Linked DNA regions of Homo sapiens. The protein of the gene in region 1 purifies or fractionates together with the protein of each later gene. This does not show direct contact. Each region holds a gene or a part of one and is shown in the gene's direction. Other genes may lie near its edges. The genes, in order: AWAT2 and HERC3.

Region 1 (4,604 bases):
AGGTGATCTGCCTGCCTCGGCCTCCCAAAGTATGACCTTGAGGGAACTCTTTTTTCAAAATTCTATTATAAAAAAATTCAAACCTACCGAGTAGTTGAAAGAATTGTACAGTGAATACCCACCACCTAGATTGTACAGATAATATTTTATGTTATCTGTACAGAAATATAAAATATAAAATATTAAAATATAAAAATATATTTAATATATTATATATAAATATTAATATATAAAAATATATTAAAATATAAAAAATATTAAAATATTAAAAATATAAAATATTTATATATTTTACTAGATTTAATAAATCAATCTTTGTTTGATTTATTACATATTTATCCATCAGTACATCCCTGTATCCATCCATCAATATATTTTACATGCATTTCAAAGTAAATTGCAGACATCAGCACTCTTTTTTGTTTTGTTTTTTTAGAGACAGTGTCTCACTCTGTCATCCAGGCTGGAGTGCAGTGGCACGGTCATAGCTCACTGTAATCTCTAATTCCTGGCCTCAAGTGATCCTCCTGCCTTGGCCTCCCAAAGTGCTGGGATTACAGGTGTGAGCTACCATGCCCAGCCTAGTATTCTTCACCCCTAAACACTTCAGAATTAATGAGAGTTCAACTTTTTTTTTTTACTTTCGAGGTAAAATCCACAGGCAGTGAAACGTACACATTTTAAGTGTATACTCACTGAGTAATGAGGTTTTGATCTGTGTAACTCACAGTCCTATCAAGACAGAGAACGTCACTGTTACCCCTAAAGGTTTCCATCATGCCCCTTCCTAGTCAATCCCCAAGCACAGGTAACCACTGCTGTGATTTGTTTCACTATAGATTGGTTTTGCCTATTCTAAAATTTCATGTACACAGAATAATATACACCAATATTTGTTTCTTCATTCAATAATAGGTTTATTCAGTACCTATGATAGCTCACAGACATACATGTGATGTCTCTTCAATGTGAGTAATGAGTTCTCCCAGACTGACTAAAAGGCTGAAGGTATTTCTAAGGCCTTGCCTGTGACCTCCTTCCCTCTGCCCTCCAATCCCATTGTCACTGAGAGACCATAGACAGTTGGGCCTCAGAAACAGAAATGCAAGCCCTGTGTCCCATTTGAGCCCTGGGCTCCTTCCTGCCCATCACTCTCCACCATCCAGACTGGCCCTGGAGGCCTCTTGTCAGCTGCACGCCCACACTAACTTTCACACCAGGGTTTCATCACATTTCTCTAGCCAAGTGCGCAAAGGAGTGTCACAATCTCAGTCCAGGCAATACCCAAGTGGGTAAAAGTACAGGTGAGTGGGCAGCTGGAAGGAACTGGATAAGCAGAGGCATTATATGGTCCTGTAATTCTGTGGAGGGGTGGTACAGGGGCGGAGGCTAGCCAGAGGCTGGGGAAGAAAACATTAAGAGAGGAAACATCACAGACTCCTGAGCAATCAGGGCTGGGCAGCTGAACAGTGCTTACCTGGAGCCACTGGGACGCTGGGCACAATGCTCTTGCCCTCTAAGAAGGACCTCAAGACTGCCCTGGATGTCTTTGCTGTTTTCCAGTGGTCCTTCAGTGCCTTGCTTATCAGTGAGTCTTCAGCCTTTGGTAGGGTGACCAACCATCCTGGCTTGCCTGAGACTGAAGGATTTTAGGGTTGCAGGATGTTCAATGGTCAAACTAGGGTTGTTCCAGTAAAACCAGGAAGGTTGGTAACACCAGCCTCTGGCCTGACCCACCTGGCCATGGTATTTGTGGGATCTGTGAGTGTCCCTGTGGGCATGTGTGTGTGCATATGGGTGTGTGCCTATGCAGGGGTGTGTATATGCACGTCTATGCACATGGACTTTGCTGCAGGTGTGAGCCCTTCTCGGTCTACATTGGGGTGTAGAGGGCATTCTTTGGGAAGATGAGGAGCAGTTCCACTGAGGCTAGCCAAGGAAAAGGGCTTGGCTGCAATCACAGGGACTCAAGCAAACCACCAATTAGAGATAGTTGGGTCAGGTGGCAGACCGAGGCTCTGGAAACCTCATCCTGAGGAATTCGACAATTTATCCATCCATGTCTTCCAACGCTTACACTACAAACACTTTGTGAAAGTTATTTCTATGCTGGCCACTGTGTTCTAAATGCTGAAACAAATCATCACTGTGGGAAGGGGTCCTGGAAAACATTCTTGCCTTTCCAGTGGTTCAGGTGAGTACTGGCTGGAGTCAGGGAAATGAATTAAGTGACCTTGCAAGCTATCTAGGAATAAAGAATGCAGATAGGCCTTGGTGCACAGAGCTGGCACAGAGGCACGCCAGTGAATAGGAAGGGTGGGCATTCCTTACCTCACCTCACCTGTTTTCAAATTCCAGTTCTACTACTTACTATCTGTGTAATTCTTAGCAAGGTATTTATCCTTTCTGAGTCTTGTTTTCCTCATTTGCAAAGTGGGAGCATTCAGGGTGTATTAATCAGGATGGTCTAGGTATGCCGTGCTGATAAATTCACCCTGAAATCTCAGTGGCTTAACCCAGCAAATGTTTATTTCTTGTTCATGCTGAATGTCCAACATAGGTTGGTGGGAGTCACCGCTCACTGTGGACATTGATATTCAGGCTGACGGAGGCACCACCAAATTGTGTCGCTGCAAAATGGGGCTTGAGGGATTACCACAGCATGGGAGGGAAAGTGAATGGAGAACTCATTCACAGTCCTTACTACCTCCACCCAGAAGTGATAGGCAAGAAACCATGAGCTGTCGCCTCATTTTGAACGTCCTTAATTACTGATGAGTTTGAGCATCTTTTCATGTTTATCAGCAATTAGTATTTCTTTTTCTGTTAACTGCCCATTTATGACCTCTGCCCATTTTTCTCTTGAATTTGAGTTGACTCTTGAAGGACAAATAGGAAATAGGTGAAGAAAGGAAGAGCATTTGGGGCAGAGAGTGGGCAACACATGGAAAAGCTAGGATGGCAAAGGGCACATAATGCATTCAAGGAGCTGCCAGTGGTTAAGTGAGGTGGAGGGTGAGAAGCACAGAATTGGTGCTCGATATATATTTATTGAATGAATGAATGAACAAACAAGAGAGGGAAGAAGGAAGAGACTGGAGAAACAGGCAGGGGACAGATTGTGTAGGGCTTTGTAAACCATGGGAAGGAGTTTGGACTTTTTTTGAGAGCCATGTGGAGCCATGAGGGAGACTGACACAGGGTGATGGCATCAGAGATTACTCTAGCTCTGTGAAGTCAACTGATTATAGGAAGATAGAAGTGGAAGGGGCAATGCCAGGTAGGAGGCTGTTGCAATAATCCAGATGGCGGTAATTTGGACCAGGCCGGTAGTGATGGTGATGCAGAGAAGAGGAAAGAAGAGGGGAGATTCAAGAAATTGGAGTAGAATGAATAGGACTTGAAGATGGGGGGTGGGGGCACGGGAGAAATGGAGGAAGCAAGACTGAGGGATCAGGTCCCAGTGTGAGCTGGCAGGGGGGCAGGTGGGGCAGAGAAGGGTTAAGGAGGAGAGTGGCTGAAAGGGGATGAGTCCAGGGACAAAATGGACTCAGAGGACTCTTAACTGGAGTTTGACTTCGGGGTATACTAAGAGGTACAGAGAGGGCAGGCAGAAGAGCTCTCGGTCCTGGCAGCAGATATGGGCTGCAGGCGTTTGCCCCTTCCTCACTAGTTCACATAGGGCAAGTGGGGCAATGGCCCTTCGGAGGCCTCTCAGCTCTTCACTCTAGGAGTGCAATTGAATCCATCCGGACCCTAAAGGCCTTGAGAGAAGGCCCTCCCAATAAGTGAGGGAAATAGTGCAGATATTGGTATTTTAGTTCCCATCTTGCAGATGAGGAACTGAGGTTCAGCAACGTCTTTGGTCACACACAGTAAGTGGCAGATCCAAGATTCATCACATCACAGGGCACCCCACCTGAGGCCACGCTTACAAGATGTCCCCAGCACTGCCTAGGTTTGAGCAGAGCCTAAAGGAAACTGGGAGGTGTCCTCTGGATCAGACCCAATGCCTCTCTTTACTTCTCAAAGAAGTCAGTAGTGTCATATGGCACTTATCAAAACCCTAGAACTGCTGGCCTTTGCTCTACCCTTAATTCTCTTTCCCAAGGCAGTGCTTTTCAACTTTGTTGGTTCTTTCTTCTGGAATTTACTTCCATATTTCTAAATCTTATTATTTGCTGATGTAACAATTTTAGACATTGTCTATTGACTTCCTAATATGGAAGATGAGAATTTGGCTGTGCACACTATCACTAGAACTTCCTCTTCCCCCATCCTCCCAAAATTGTTATAGCACAGGTTTTGGTTAAATGCCTATGACTAGAAAATATGATTCATAATTGAGCTATTTAGTCACCAAGATTATATTTCCTTTCCCATGGAATTTCCTGTTTTCCCTGAAGTTAATAATTGCCTCATTTTATTTTATTATTTTATTTTTTAGTGTAATATTTTAAAATCAATTTTTGAATCTTAAGTACTAAATATTTTATAGAAATAAAACTTTTTCTACTTAACATAAGGATTAAAAATACCTAATTCCAATCCTAGAAGTATCATCATTGCAATTTGACAAAATAATTTCAAAGTTTTTCTGGAAA
Region 2 (3,819 bases), on another chromosome or scaffold:
TCCAGATGGACTGGGATGTTACTTGAGTGTGGTCTCGCCGTGAATAAAGAGATTGTGTTCCTGAAGGTGGAATACTGGCTTTTCTATATTGCCTCCACCTTTGTAGAAGAGATAAAAACAGAAATAATAATGAAAGCACTAGTAAATGTTAGTACTTAATTTTTTTTAAGATCAAAAGCCTTTTGGGGGCACATTTTCTCAGGTGTTCTAGTTGATGTGAAACAGAGAGGTGGCAATATCAGAAGAAATCTTACCTGACTTTCAAGTTTTAGAGTTTTTTCATTTTTATTTTTCCAGGCTGGAAAATACAAAGAGAACATAATTGTTCAATTTTACACTTTATTTTTAACTTCTAATTATTGATATTTAAAAGAATACCCCAAAGTAGAGAGTATGCTACAGGTAGTCACCACACAAATTCAGCAGTTGTCAGTATTTTGCCCATTTTATTTCATCTGTCCCTCGCCCTCACCACCTTTTTATTTTTTGTTGGAGTATTTTAAAGGAAATCTCAGACATACTATTTCATTCTTTAAGTATTTCAGTATGGCTGAGTTTATTTCCAACGAAGTATAAGCCAGTGGTATATCTTCTTGTCTGGTTATGAGAAAGCATTTTTTGGTGAGAAGTAAAAATCGTAGTTTTTCAACTAATGATACCTCTTAAAGGGAAGGGAATGGTTGCCATATTGGTGCTGCTTCTAGGGTATGTGGTGCGTCATCCTTTGCATTTCTGCTTCAGGATTTAGTGATGGCTGAAAGCGCTAGGACATAAGAATGCTTTTTGGATTAATACATTGGGCATCACTCCTGCCCAAAATATGTGTATCTTGTCCACATGTAGTCTGGAATTGGACTTTTAAGTTAACCTTCAGATTGAGTCTTTGCAAAAAATCAGACCAGGCTTTACAAAAAAAGCTCCAGGGATTCTTTTACAGCTGTTGTTCTCCCCAAAAAGGTTTTAATGGATTCTTTTTAAAGTCAGTTTTGGGAAAATGTATTTTAGACTAATGTTTATCTTCTAGACAAAGCAATTTTTAACTGGCAGGCAGAAGACATAAATACTTGCCCAAGATTACATGTTGAAATATGTCTTTTCTTTCTTTCTAAAGATAACTGGTGGTCTCAGGTATGCCCGAAATATTTCATGAAGCTGGTAAACCTCTATAAAGGTGCAGTCCTTTATCTACTGAGGGGAAGAAAGACATTCTTAATTCCCGTACTGTTTAACAATTATATCACAGCAGCTCTCAAACTCTTGGAGAAGTTATATAAGGTGAGCATAGGAGGTGCTAGTGGGGAGGGGGTGATTAGATGGTAGGGTAAAATGTCCTAGTGAGATGTTCTCTGGGAAGCCATGTTTCAGTTGTCTGTATTTTGTTCTTCATTAGGTAAATCTTAAAGTGAAGCATGTGGAATATGATACATTTTACATTCCTGAGATTTCCAATCTCGTGGACATTCAGGAAGACTACCTCATGTGGTTCTTGCATCAAGCAGGGATGGTAAGAATTCATAAAGCATATTTTAAAGCTTTAGTCTTTTTATAAGAAAAGCACATGTGAGCTGTATAATATGTCTTTGACTTTGATGTCAGTGTGTCACCTATTCTTCATCCAGCTGGCCTTTTGCATTCTAGAAACTTGGAAGTGCTTTAAGTAATCATCAATGTTATAAGGAGTCATAAATGAGTAGTCACCCAGAATGTTACACATTTTATCAGTTGCCCCCTTTAAAAAAATCAGAGTATCTAAAGTAGTCAAATCCACAGAAACAGAAAGTACAGTGGTGATTGCTAGGGGCTGGAGGCAGGGGAAAATGGAGAGTTGCTATTTAATGAGTATAGCTTCAGTTTTGCAAGATAAGAAAGTTTGGAGATCCAATTGTACACCAGTGTGACTATACTTAACACTGCTGAAAGTGTACACTTAAAAATGCTTAAGATGGTACATGTTATGTTAGGTTTTTTTTTAAACCATAATTAAAAAAACAAGACACATACAAATATGAATTTTTAGCTTTCCTCAAAACTTGGAAGATCTGGCAACACGACCTGTCTTCCCATATGACACCAAGTGGCTGGAGTTCAAGAGTGACTCTTTAGATGAGGCTTATGTATATGCCACAATTCCCACTGCAGCGTAATTTATCCCTGACATTGAGGAAGGGTCATTTGCTAATTATCATCTTCTGACAGCCTACTCCAGTCATCATATGTCAGCTACCTGGACCCCGTAGGCCCCTTCTGATTGAGAATTATGTGTGTGAAAGTGTCACACATCCCTGACCAAGTGCTGTCTCACCGTATTTTAGATATGCCATTCAGGGGCCTGTGGATTCCTGCCTACCACCTCTGGCGTGGCAGGAACTGCTCCTTTTGATAGCACACCAGCTTGGGATATATGCAAGGCTCTTTAGGATCTCCCATCTGTGGAGTATGTGCAAATTTGAGTTAGGTCAGAAAACAGAATGATAATTTGGTTATTGTATTTTGTGAAGCCATGTGCAGCAGATTTGAGGTGAGTCCTTGCCAGTGTAGCAGGTTCATCACCAGTATTAGGGCAATATTTTTCCTGTGGGGTTTTTGGAAGTCAGCAGTTGTCTCCAAAAGCAAGACATTTAAATAGGCTGATCTAACTGAACAAGAAGGATTGTTTTCTTTGTCAAATAATAGATGATGAATGCTAGACACAATGTTGTATTTTTTTCTCTAGAGACTTAAAAAATGCATACAATGTTTTATTTTTAAATAAGATTTTATGATTACCCTGAGAAAACAAAATACTTTTTTTTTGAGACAAGGTCTGGCTCTATCACCCAGGCTGGAGTGCAGTGGCACCATCTTGGCTCACTGCAACCTCTGCTTCCCAGGCTCAAGCCATTCTCCCACCTCAGCCTCCCGAGTAGCTGGGACTACAGGTGCGTGCCATCATGCCTGGCTAATTTTTGTATTTTTTGTAGAGATGGGGTTTTGTGATGTTTCCCAAGCTGGCCTTGAACTCATGAGCTCAAGTGATTCACCAGCCTCGGCCTCCCAAAGTGCTGGGATTACAGGGGTAAGCCACTGTGCCTGGCCAGGAAAATACTTTTTAATATAAATGAGTTAGAGTGTTCTAAATGGGCTGACTTGGGAAATTTAACATGGAGGCTAGTAATGAACTCTGTTTTCACTTTCAAATTTAGGAATTATTAAAAAATAAGCCCTTCTGTTTTATCAATTTATGAATAATTATTCACTGAATAATAACATTATGAGCAGAAAAATAAGCCTGATGAATTATTTAGTCCAACTGCTTTGTTTCTAGATGAGGAAATGGAAGTTAAACAATTTTTCCACTAATTTCATTAGTAGCAGTAAAAGTCAATTCTTCTGATTTCTAATCTACCCTTTCTGTGACTTGATGCTGAATAAAATAAGTCTAACAAATTGTAATTCTTTTTTACTCTGAAAAAGAAGTTGCTCATGTTAAAATCTAGATTATTATGACAGTAGTCTCTGAGTAGAGATATTTAAGTAACTTTTACAATATTTTAAACTTCCTTTCTTTTAACATTTGATAAATATCTTATCAGATCTTGAATAACAGATGCTCATCTCTTCAATAACTATAATAGTTATTAAAGAAATATGGAAAATTACATGAAATTAGTATATGGCCTTTTGTGATTTTTGTGGAATTTTTTTTATTGTATGAGGTACAATGCTATTAGAAATTGAATTTTAAATGTCTTGATATTTTGAAGTTTAATTTAAAATACTAAAGCTATTTCATATGTTATTTTTGTTTAACTACTTTTAAATAATAGATGGATTTTTTTG

What was found.
Region 2: the proteins of AWAT2 (region 1) and HERC3 purify together in Homo sapiens (affinity purification with mass spectrometry; one large-scale study listed by BioGRID and IntAct). This does not show direct contact.

Annotation. Positions count from the first base shown.
Region 1 is NC_000023.11:70,046,832-70,051,435, reverse strand, and holds the start of AWAT2 (acyl-CoA wax alcohol acyltransferase 2), read left to right. Parts: upstream 1-1,497; 5' UTR 1,498-1,503; coding exon 1,504-1,588; intron 1,589-4,604. UniProt on the Homo sapiens protein: Acyltransferase that catalyzes the formation of ester bonds between fatty alcohols and fatty acyl-CoAs to form wax monoesters.
Region 2 is NC_000004.12:88,668,749-88,672,567, forward strand, and holds part of HERC3 (probable E3 ubiquitin-protein ligase HERC3), read left to right. Parts: intron 1-1,111; coding exon 1,112-1,275; intron 1,276-1,390; coding exon 1,391-1,504; intron 1,505-3,819. UniProt on the Homo sapiens protein: E3 ubiquitin-protein ligase which accepts ubiquitin from an E2 ubiquitin-conjugating enzyme in the form of a thioester and then directly transfers the ubiquitin to targeted substrates.